Regions from separate parts of the Homo sapiens genome. Here region 1 is linked to region 2. The links come from fine-mapping of genetic effects on gene expression. A gene starts in region 2. The other region holds a variant in brackets. All regions are shown on one strand. Distances are from middle to middle.

Region 1 (5,359 bases), 41 kb before region 2:
GTTAGTGATGGCAGAACCCCCAACCCTACCCCAGTGACCGCGGAGAGTCGGAGGCTCCAATATTTACAGATAAAATACAAAGCGTCAGCAAGAGAAAGAACCACGGAAGACGGTGCAGCCTAACTCCTGACTCAGGGGCTGTAGAGAAAGGAGAACCAGGGGGACAGGCAAGGAAGCTGGGCCCCGGCTGAACGCTCCAGGCTGAAAGGCTTCCTGAACCTTTCTCAACTGCTTTTTTTTTTTTTGGAGACAAGGTCCTGCTCTGTCACCCCAGCTGGAGTGCAGTGGCACAATCTTGGCTCACTGCAGCCTCAACCTTATGGGCTCAAGTGATCCTCCCACCTCAGCCTCCTGGGTAGCTGGACTATAGGCAGGTGCTACTATGCCCAGCTAATTTTCAAAAAAATTTTTTTTGTAGAGGTGGGGTCTCACTATGTTCCCCAGGCTGTTCTCAAACCCCTGGGCTCAAGCAGTCCTCCCACCTCAGCCTCCCAAAGTGCTGGGATTCCAGGGGTGAGCCACCACACACAGCCCTGATTCAAATTTCTTATGAGCAAAATGGGAGTCAAACAAGAAAAGCTTGTCTTGGCAGGCTGGACAGGCTGTGTGGCTGGGATGGGGCCCTCACGTCCCGCCCCACGTGTGGAAGCAGCTACAGACCAGAGACACACCCTGGATCCCCACCCCAGCATGACACCGACCCCAGGGACGCACGCCCTACCTTGTACGGGGAGATGTGCGTGTCGGGCGGGAAGGCCAGCATGCCCATGGCCTGGCGCACCTCGTCCAGCTGGCTCCCTTCTGCTTGGCTGAAGTGCTTTCTTGCATGTCTAAAAAACAACATTTTGGCACATTTAAGTTTGCGTTTTAATTTTAACTTTTAGAGACAGGGTTTCACTCTGTCACCCAGGCTGCAGTGCAGTGGCACAGTCACAGCTCACTGTAGCCTCGAACTCTCAGGCTCAGGCGATCTTCCCGAGAAGCTGAGACCGCAGATGTGCAGCACCACACCTAGCTAATGTAAAAAACATCTTGTTAGAGACAGATTCTCGCTGTGTTGCCCAGGCTGGTCTCCAACTCCTGGGCTCAAGCCATCTTCCTGCCCCGGCCTCCCAAAGTGCTGGGATTATAGGCATGAGCCGCTGCACCCGGCCTGCATTTTTAAGTTGAAAAATCTGAGCTAACAGCTTTTATGTCAGAGTCTAGGTACAAAGTAATCGCCTCACTCCAAGCCGACCTGCTGGGTGGGGCTGGGATGGCGGGAGGTGCGGCTCACCAGAGGCTGGAGGAGCAGCTACCAGACACTCCTTCCTCCAGGGGACCAGGGCACCCAAGCCACACAGACAACCCACGGAAAACACCAGAACTGCAAATGGCACCTGCCCCCGAGGGCTCTCCAAAGCGATTCTGGTTTACAAGGAACCCAAACCCTGAGGATTCCCACTCTCCCCAGATGCTCGCCCCCACGGACCCCGTGGCCCCAGCGGACCAAGAACGTGTAGTCTTCTCAACTGCAGTCCTTGCTGTTTGGCAGTGACGCCCAGCACAACCTTCCGAAGAACAGCCTCCCTCAGCCCACAGGCTGGACTCCCTGCAGATCCGGCCCAGCCCTCTCAGCCCTGAGCGTGCCACACACCACATGCAGCCACGATCTTTCCTGAGCCAACTCTGCGGGATGCACACAGGCCTACTCCAGGCCAGAACCCCACTCCAGTCTAAGGCTGGGCAACCAAGAAACCAAAGCAGAACATAACAGATCCCTTTCAAGCTGACCAGCGGGCACCTGCTCACCCCCAGGGCCCCCATTCTCATGCCCCCCCCCACACACAGGGTCACTGTCCCTCTGGCTGTCCTGAGGGCCTGCACCCCCATGTCCTGACCCTCACACGGGCCCCTGTGCACCCCACGTTCTCAGCCCTCAGGGCCCCTCTGCCAAAGCGACCCCAATGCACAGAACCAGGGGCCTCAAGTCCCATGTGTGAGTCAGCCCTGTGCTGTCCAGAACAAGGCATGTACCAAGGAACACAGGGCTGAGGAGGTGCCAGGCGCTCACGGTGGCCTTGGAGAAGATGCAGTGTCTCGCAGAGACTGGAGTTAGTGTAGGAGGTGGCCCAGCAGCCCCTTGATGGATAGCACGGGGACCACGTGTTGGAAGCACCACCAGGAGAGCCCGGGGCAGCAGGGAGTGGGGGGCGTCCACGCTTGGGACCCAGCCTGGGGAGTCCACATGGCTGACGCCCCAGGGCCTGTGCAGGGCCTGGGAGTCGGGGGTGAATCCACACGGCCGACCCCGCAGGGTGCATACAGGGACTGGGAGTCGGGGGTGAGTCCACACGGCTGACCCCGCAGGGTGCGTGTGCAGGGGCTGGGGACGGCCATCCGAGATTCCAGTGCCCATGCATCCCCCTCCTTGGAGCGTGTGGGTGGGCGTGGGTCTGAGTCCAGGAGGAGCCCCACCCAACCCCCTCATTCCATCTCTGGAGACAAGTCACCCTTCGTCACACGCCAAGACGTGCACAGAACACGGCCAACGGGCATCTCACCTCCTCCCAGAGCTGCTGAAGAGAGGAAATTTAATCTCCGTGGTTGACATCTACAAGATCTCATTTGCATGACCTGGTTTACGCGTCTTATCTCACCATCAATCAAACCCCAGACAGACATCATCCGCCTAACAAGCTGCCTCACCTCGCACCCCAGGTCCCTGATCCACAAATCCTGACCCCAAGACAGAAACAGAAAACCTAACAGTGGCGGCTGACTCTTTTCAGATCGTTTGATGCCAGCATTCAGCCCCAACACACAGAGAACTGCAGCCGAGATGTGGGGCCCTCAGAGCAGGTCCGGGGAGAACAGCACGGTATGCATCCACAGGACACAGGGGAAACAAAACCGTGACTTTTAACAAACTAAATGCAGCTAACATAAGAAACACAAAAACTTCCATTTTTCTTTAAAAATATAAACACACGGGCCAGGCACGGTGGCTCACGCCTGTAATCCCAGCACTTTGGGAGGCCAAGGTGGGCGGATCACAAGGTCAGGAGTTTGAGACCA[G/T]CCTGGCCAACATGGTGAAACCCCATCTCTACTAAAAATACAAAAATTAGCCGGGCGTGGTGGTGGGCGCCTGTAATCCCAGCTACTCAGAGGCTGAGGCAGGACAATCACTTGAACCCGGGAGGCGGAGGTTGCGGTGAGCTGAGATTGTGCCAGGCAACAGAGCAAAACTCAACCTCAAAACACACACACACACACACGGAAAGAGAGAGAGAGAGAAACACCCAGAAGACAAAATTCCTAAACTGTGCCTGGCCAGGCTGAGGTGTGGGTGTGCGACAGACGGCACGGAGCTGCTCACACAAAGCCCATGAAGTACAGGCCAGGTCCCAGCCGCCTGGGGTCAGGGATTCACTTACTCATTTACTAAAAATTAAAGGCGTTAAAAGTTAATCACTAGCAGCTCATACTTTTGCATTTCGCAAAAACCCACAAATGCCCCAGGCAGGGCGGAGCTGCAGCCACCCCAGCCAACGAGGCCCCCTGCCCGGCCCAGCACGCTGGCTCCACAGACAGCAGGACTCACCTTGCCTGCCCCAGTGGACCCAGAGGCTAGGCTGCTGGCCTCAAGCCCTGTAGATGGTGCCCGACGCTCCAGCGCCATGTGGACCGTGAGTTCAGAGGTGGACGGGAAGCTCCTGCGGGCTGGGACCCTGGCAGCAGGTGAGAGGGCCCTGCCTGGAGCCCTCAGGAGACATGTGGCCAGGCTTCTCCGCCTTCCCTCTTGTCCAGCCTCAGTGAGTGATACACAACACCCTCTGGGCTCCCAGCCAAACACCCGCACTCCCTCACCCCACAAACGTCCTGCCGATGCCCCACCTGCCACCCCAGCCCAGCTCCCGTGTGCCTTGTGGGTGGCTCCAGGGCCACGCTGAGCTGAGGCCGGACTTCCCTGACCAGGCCCTGGCACCTGGAGAACCACTCCCAAGACGGCCCCAGCAGAGGATGTAGCTCACACTGCGCCTGCCCCCGAGACACTGGGGTGTTGTTTGCCATGCCTGCCCGGCTGGCTGCTGAGGCTTCGAGGCAGCACGTGTCTGCTTGCGGGAGGAAGGACACGCACTTCCTGGGACCTGCCTGCTCCCCTGCAACAGACGAGGCCGCAGAGGGCACAGCTCTGAGCTCGGCTCAGACATTATGAGGTGGAGGCCCCGCGAGTCTCTAGGGCAGATTCTACCCAGAGCAGGGGGAACAAGGCAAAGAGACCCTACACGGAGCGGGGGGAACACAGGCAAAGAGACCCTACGCGGAGCGGGGGGAACACAGGTAAACAGACCCTACACGGAGCCAGGGTAACACAGGCAAATAGACCCTATGCGGAGTGGGGGTAACAGGTCAACAGACCCTATGCGGAACCAGCTGCCACCTAGATGAAGACATCTGTGACGGAGGGACTCCGGGATGGACACGTTTTGTTTTCAGACTCCAGGGCTGACAGTGGCCGGGGCCCTCAAGGAGACGGAGGCTGACTCGGGATGGAAGCAGACTGCCGCCGGACAGAGGCCAGCGACACAGGCACCGAGGCCACACGGAGGCCAGAGCAGAGCGGGAGCCCCTCCTCTTGACAGGGGGCCCCTGGCCGTGTCCCCGCAATGCTCACACGCCACTCTCCACTGGCCCGGGTCCCGAGATCCCCGCTTTAGCCCTCTCAGGCACAGAAGGGACCTCGTTGCAGGCCTGGCTCCCTCGTGCGTGAAGACGAGGCCTGACCTGCCACCATGCGCCCAGGTCAGCATCAGGAGCCGGAGCAGGACCCCGGGCCTCTCCAGGGTCCACGCAAGGGCAGGGACTTGCCGCGGTTCTGCCGTGCGTCTTGGGGACCACCCTCAGCACCTCATCGTGAGACGCCCACTTCTCCAAATGGGCCTTCTGTGGAACACTCGGCCACCCGGCCCACTGCAGGTGGATATGGAGTCGCGGTCGGGTTTCTGTGGGCATGGACAGGTGCCCCCTCCTGGCAAACACACCTGCTGGGCACTCGCCCGGGAGCTGAGGGCCAGCCAGGCCCACACACCCCACACAGCAACTCAAGCGTCACCGCAAGGCTTGGCCGCTCAGGAACCTCCATGAAAGTGAGTGAGACGACCTAGCACTCAAGGAGCAGCCCTGCCCCGAGACGGGGTGAGCATGAACTGGCCGACACTGCCCAGGCCAGGGACCACTGCTGCCTGACGATGCCCACTCTGGGGAGCCAGCGGGAAGCCAGCGGACAGCCTCTCTTCCTTTGCAGACGCCGTGCACCCCAACTGGGCTGAGCCACAGTGACAGCCAGCATCCCCTTCTCAGGCCTGACCACCAGGGC
Region 2 (5,359 bases):
GGGAGGCTGAGGTAGGAGAATTGCTTGAATCTGGGAGGCAGAGGTTGCAGTGAGCTGAGATTGTGCCACCGCGCTCCAGCCTGGGCAACAGAGTGAGACTCCGTCTCAAAAAAGAAAAAAAAAAAAAAAAAAGATGGTGAGTTATTCATCTTTCCCCTCCCCCACAAGGCATTACCCACCACCCTACACCGGACGGCGTTCACAGCATTTGACAGCAAAAAGACACAGCCACAGCCAGGACGCAAGGCTGAGTCCTCATGAGCCACACCTCCGTTTGGTAAGAGGAAGAAACAAGTCCCTTAAAGCAGGATCCAGCCCAGCAATTCTCAGGGGTGTGTGCATGCCCCCAGGGCACATCTAGCAATGTCTGAAGACATTTTGGGGGCATGCTCTTGGCATCTGGCAGGCAGACACCAGGGATGCTGCTAGACATCCTAGACTGCACAGCCCCCACCACCGACAAAGGCTCCTCCAGCCCAAACGTTCGCAGGCCGGTCCACCCCTTTGGTGGAAATAGAAGCTCATGACGACAGAGGTGCCCAAGGTCAGTGCGTGTTGGCTGCAGCAATTCACGTCTGTTCCATTCTCTTCCCACTTCACCAGGAAAATAGAAAAATAAGTACCTGCCAGGCACCCAGGAGCCCCACCAGCCGCCCTGACGCTGTGAGGAAGCAGACATCCCAAGTGTTACTGCTGAAACCCACCTAGGGCTACCAAGCCCTCTGAAGAGAAAGGAATCCCCTGTGAGTCTGTGGAGGACTCACATGGCAGGAAAGCAGTTTAACTATTACCAGGTGAAGATCCAGTCCAGAGCATGCCAGCTGCTACCACCCTGCAGGAGGACTTGCTCTCAGACTAGAGAAGCAGAACATCCACCCCCCACCTTCCACAACCCCGGTCCTGCAGCCCTCGGTCCCTTCTCTGACATCTGCACTGGCCCCTCCTGGAAACTGAAGAGTGCAGCTCTTGAGCTGTGAGCTCAGCATGTTCTGTTTAGTTCTATACCAATAAATGCTTCTAAATCAAGGATCCCTAGTTTCCCAGCAAAACACCTCCATTATCCACTAGGAATCACTCCTGAAAACTTCTATGAAAAAAAGTTTTAACTCAGTAGTGACACAAGTGTCAACAGAGAAATTATGACACTATAATATTTCTTTACCTGTATGACTATCTGCATGACTATTTTAATCAGAAGCTATGCAATCACTCTGGAATACAAATTACATTCACGATTACAAAACAGCAGAAGACCTGAAGAAGAATCCTTTCCGGAGACCTTCCATCTCCCTTCCTAGTTCCTTCAATACACAATGAAAGGATTTCTGGAAACTTTTCCTATCTAGTGTTTCCCACATTCACCAGCCAGTACCAGAAGTGACAAACCACCACGGTTCTGATCTTCAAACCTTCTTGTGTGTTAGCTGAAATGACAGGCCTGGAGGTGCACTGCGTGAGACAAAGTGGTCAGTGGTTAGGACTCCCTACTAATATCACCACAATGTCCTTGTATAGACTTCTCTCAGCTGCAGGGTCTCCATCTCTAAACCAACAGAGATCCACCAATGTCACTGAGTATTAAAAACCAACCACCTACATCTTGGAGGGATCTAGCAAGAGGCTAGACCTTTGGTAACGTCAGCAACATTGCCCTCCCTTCCTTGATCAAAAGAAGTGCTGGACACACAAGCACCATGAAACCCCACTGCGAAACCATTAGTGTGGCGGGCGCGTGGCTCACACCTGTCAGCCCAGCGCTTTGGGAGGTCAAAAGGCAGGAGGATCGCTTAAGTCCTGGAATCCAAAACCACCCTAGGCAACAGTGAAACCCCGTTTCTTTTTAAAAATATGAAATAAACCGCTAGTTAATAAAGAGGAGGAGAAGCTTGCTTCTGCTTTCCTATGAAGACCAGCTACAGCAGGGTACAGCCTGACTTCAGCAGCGCTAACTGTAGCAGGGACCTTTTAATGAATGCTAGGCACTGTTTGAAACAATACGTGGTCACTCATTTCACCCTGAGGTGACACAGGCGCTACCACTGCTTAAACCTGACAAGAATAAACAGTCACCAACCGGGCCCTGATGTCTCCCAGTAAGGACGAATACAGAGAAGCCTGATTCACACCCCAGCAGGATGGCTCACAGCCTGTGCTCTTCAGCCCTTCGCTGAACTGCCCTGGGGCTGGGGGAACGCACAGCAACCTGGCCATACTGCATCCTCCACACCTGTCGCCACACCGTCCGTCCTCAGACGGACGTGAACACCAGGGCGCTCTGGGAGGAGAGAGAAACTACGCAGCTCTCCAGGAAGGCAACACAGAACCACGAAGCTCAGCCGCAGCTCTAGGAAAGCTATGACCTTGATCTTTTAAGGAATTCCTTCCCAGGTGCTTCATATCAAATCCTCTACTAACTAGGTAAAGAACAAGTATCGGCTCCTTCTACTAGGAGCACAAATTTCATTCTAAGAAGTGCGACGTGGCTAGGTGACCACCCAAGGTCACGCAACCGGCAGCCGGACGGCAAGAGCTGTATTTCAGGTTTGGTGACGCCCATCAAAAAGGTCGCTGGGTGCCATCAGGCCGTGAGGTTTCTCCCTACAGTTCCTAACTAGCGACCGGCGCAGCCGGCACCTCCCAGCCCTGGGCTCCCGGGAGGGCGGCCGGGCACTGGCTGGGCACGCCGCGCACTCCGTCTGCCTGGGCGCCAGAGACCCCACGCCCCGCAAACTCCGGCTTCCACCCCAGCCCCAAATTCGCCACCCTTAGCGCTGCCAGAGTCGTCGCTGGCTCGGCTCACGCAGCTCTTCAAGCAGAGGGGCCACAGTCGGGCGCCTGGCAGGGCCAAAGCCGCCGCCCCCGCCACACCTGCCCGGCGCGGACCGGGCGCCCCTGAGAAGCCCGCACGGCCCCGCGAGGCCGCGCCCAGCTCCCGCCGCCCTCGCCGCTGGCCCTCCCGGGGCGGCCCCTCGCGGCCCGAGGGCACTGGCTGGAGACGCCTTCGCTGCCCTCAGCCTGCGCGGCGCAGGCGCCCACCTTGAGGGTCGGGTACTCCTGGACCTTCAGGGTCATGGACAACTGAGCCGCCGACTCCTGCACCGCCATCTTGAAGCGGCCAAAACATTAGCGGGCGGGGGACGCGCGAGCGCGCTGCACGCCGGGAAATGACGCCACGCGCCGGCCGGAGCAGGATGGGGGCGGGCCGATGCCCCTGCACCAATCGTATCCGCCCAGTCGGCCGGAGGCGGAAGAAGGCGCGAACCAATCACTGCCGGGTTTCCTCTCGTTCAGCCAATCAACGATAGCCCCGGCTGGCGGTTTCCACCTTGAATTCGCTACCGGGTTCAGGCCGCAGACGCCGGAGCTGGGGATGCTCCTGGCCCGGGGCGGGCCGATGGGGTGCGGGCTGCGGCCCGGGCGGGTGGAGCTGGGGCCGAGCGGGCTGGGGGACTTGGCGTCCGTCCAGTTACTTGGGGCTCCCGCGGGGTGGTCCCCTGTGGGTCCCTCGTGCCTGCGGTACCAAGGGCAACGCCAACAAAACGCCTGGCCGCATGCGCCTGTAGCCAGCTATTTTTCTTTGGCCTTATTTTGACCGATTTACAGCTGCTGGAATCCTGATGTGGAACCTCCGACTTCCCAACGGAAGAGGAAAGGCCCAGTACCTAAAACTGATTTATGGACAGAAACTCCCGAAGCATGAGAAGCGTGTGGCCTCTCCGCCCTCTCCTTGCAGGGCGGGCAGCGCTGGCATCCAGGTCGTGCGCTGCCTTCATTTCAGCCACTTCACATTCTCAGCCTTTCAAACACCACCCGTCTCCCTCCTTTCCAAAATAAAACTGAAATTAGATTTTATTAATTAGGAAATGACGTCCCAATTAAACCACCTTGTGTTTCACATAACACATTTCTAAACAACTTTTAAAATATTTGGTGTTTAAACAAAGGAAAAACATCTAAGGTGACACAGCGATGAAGGGAGAACCTCCGCTTGGAGGCTGCTACATGTTACAGCCGCAAGACATCCGACCCGCACTGTGGAATCTTTCTCTGTCTTACTTAAACAGGAGTTGGGACTAAGGAAAGTGTTATTCCTCAAGTGTGTGGCTGCAGACTCCAGTCTTTTAGACATTTGAAGTAAGTTTTACAGTGAGGTGCACAAATCTTAACTATACAGCTTTAATGAATTTTCACCCATATTTGCACTTTTATCTAACCGTGTCCTGGTTGAGATTTAGGACATTTCCCGTGGCACAGAAAGCTCCTCTGCCCCTTCCCGGGCTATATCCCCATCATTCTAACCCTGCTCCCCGTAACAGCGTTCCTGACCTTCCTATAGAGATGGAAGCATGCACTCTGTACTCTTTGCGTCCTTTCACGGTTCGCATCGTGTCTGCCACTCTCCGGGATGGTCCCAGTAGTACACAGGAGCACTGCAGCAGTTGGATGGACTGCACTCCTCTTAGAGACTGCCTTCACTTCACCAGGGATTCAAGATTAACCCAAAGGAAAGGACACGGGTTTCATTTCCATGGTAAAATGATCCTATCCTAGTACCATCTACAGTCAGAAATACTTAGGAATTATAAGGCAGAGGTTTGCACGTTGGAGAGGTTGTTTAACCCTCTACAACCTTTGAGTCATTCATTCTAGGTTTTCTTATGTTGGAAGATAAAACTGTATTTGAATTAGTCCTTTTGTAAACCAAAAAGTGTCTGAGACAGATCTCAATCAGTTTAGAAGTTTATGTTGCCAAGGTTAAGGATCATGACCAGTGACACAGCCTCAAGAGGTCCTCAGAACACATGCCCAAGGTGGTTGGGTTACAGCTTGATTTTATACGTTTTAAGGAGATGTAGGCATCAATCAGTACATGTGAGATTTACATTGGTCCGAAAAGGCAGGACAACACAAAGCACAGCGGGGCTTCCAGCTCACAGGTGGATTCAAAGATTTTCTGATTGGCATTTGGTTGAAAGAGTGCTTATCTAAAGATCTGGAATCGAGAGAAAGGAGCATCTGGGTTAAAAGGGGTTGTGGAGACCAACGTTCTTATTACATAGATGAAGCCTCATAGGTGGCCACCATTAGAAGCAATAGATGGCAAATGTTTCATATCTAGATCTTAAAAAGCTGCTAGACTTGGCCGGGTGCTGTGGCTCACGCCTGTAATCCCAGCACTTTGGGAGGCCGAGGCGGGCGGATCACGAGGTCAGAGATCAAGACTATCCTGGCCAACATGGTAAAACCCTGTCTCTACTAAAAATACAAAAATTAGCTGGATGTGGTGGCACTCACCTGTAGTCCCAGGTACTTGGGAGGCTGAGGCAGGAGAATCACTTGAACCTGGGAGGCAGAGGTT

Direction of the effects. Alleles are on the strand shown, and positions count from the first base shown. SD is a standard deviation of normalised expression in the study named.
In carriers of allele T in region 1, the expression in lung of the gene that starts at base 3,128 in region 2 tends to be higher than with G alone (moderate effect, 0.59 SD a copy in GTEx).

What was found.
Region 1: its variant is fine-mapped to the expression of MAEA in lung (TOPMed, PIP above 0.99). The same link has a PIP of 0.9 or more in CD4 T cells, NK cells, blood mononuclear cells, breast, cerebellar hemisphere and coronary artery.

The regions. Positions count from the first base shown.
Region 1 is chr4:1,328,228-1,333,586 of GRCh38, reverse strand. MAEA (macrophage erythroblast attacher, E3 ubiquitin ligase) reads right to left here. Exons shown (of 9, transcript NM_001017405.3): 6 at 722-830. Among named protein-coding and RNA genes, the nearest start is that of UVSSA, 16 kb to the left of the region's middle. The variant G/T (reference allele first, on the strand shown) is at 3,058.
Region 2 is chr4:1,287,660-1,293,018 of GRCh38, reverse strand. MAEA (macrophage erythroblast attacher, E3 ubiquitin ligase) reads right to left here and starts at 3,128. Exons shown (of 9, transcript NM_001017405.3): 1 at 3,037-3,128. The coding sequence starts at 3,105. LOC105374347 (a long non-coding RNA gene) reads left to right here and starts at 3,448. Exons shown (of 3, transcript XR_925046.3): 1 at 3,448-4,134. LOC105374346 (a long non-coding RNA gene) reads right to left here. Exons shown (of 2, transcript XR_925043.3): 1 at 5,296-5,359; 2 at 4,725-4,993. RefSeq lists silencers at 1,547-1,729, 2,818-3,097, 3,198-3,607.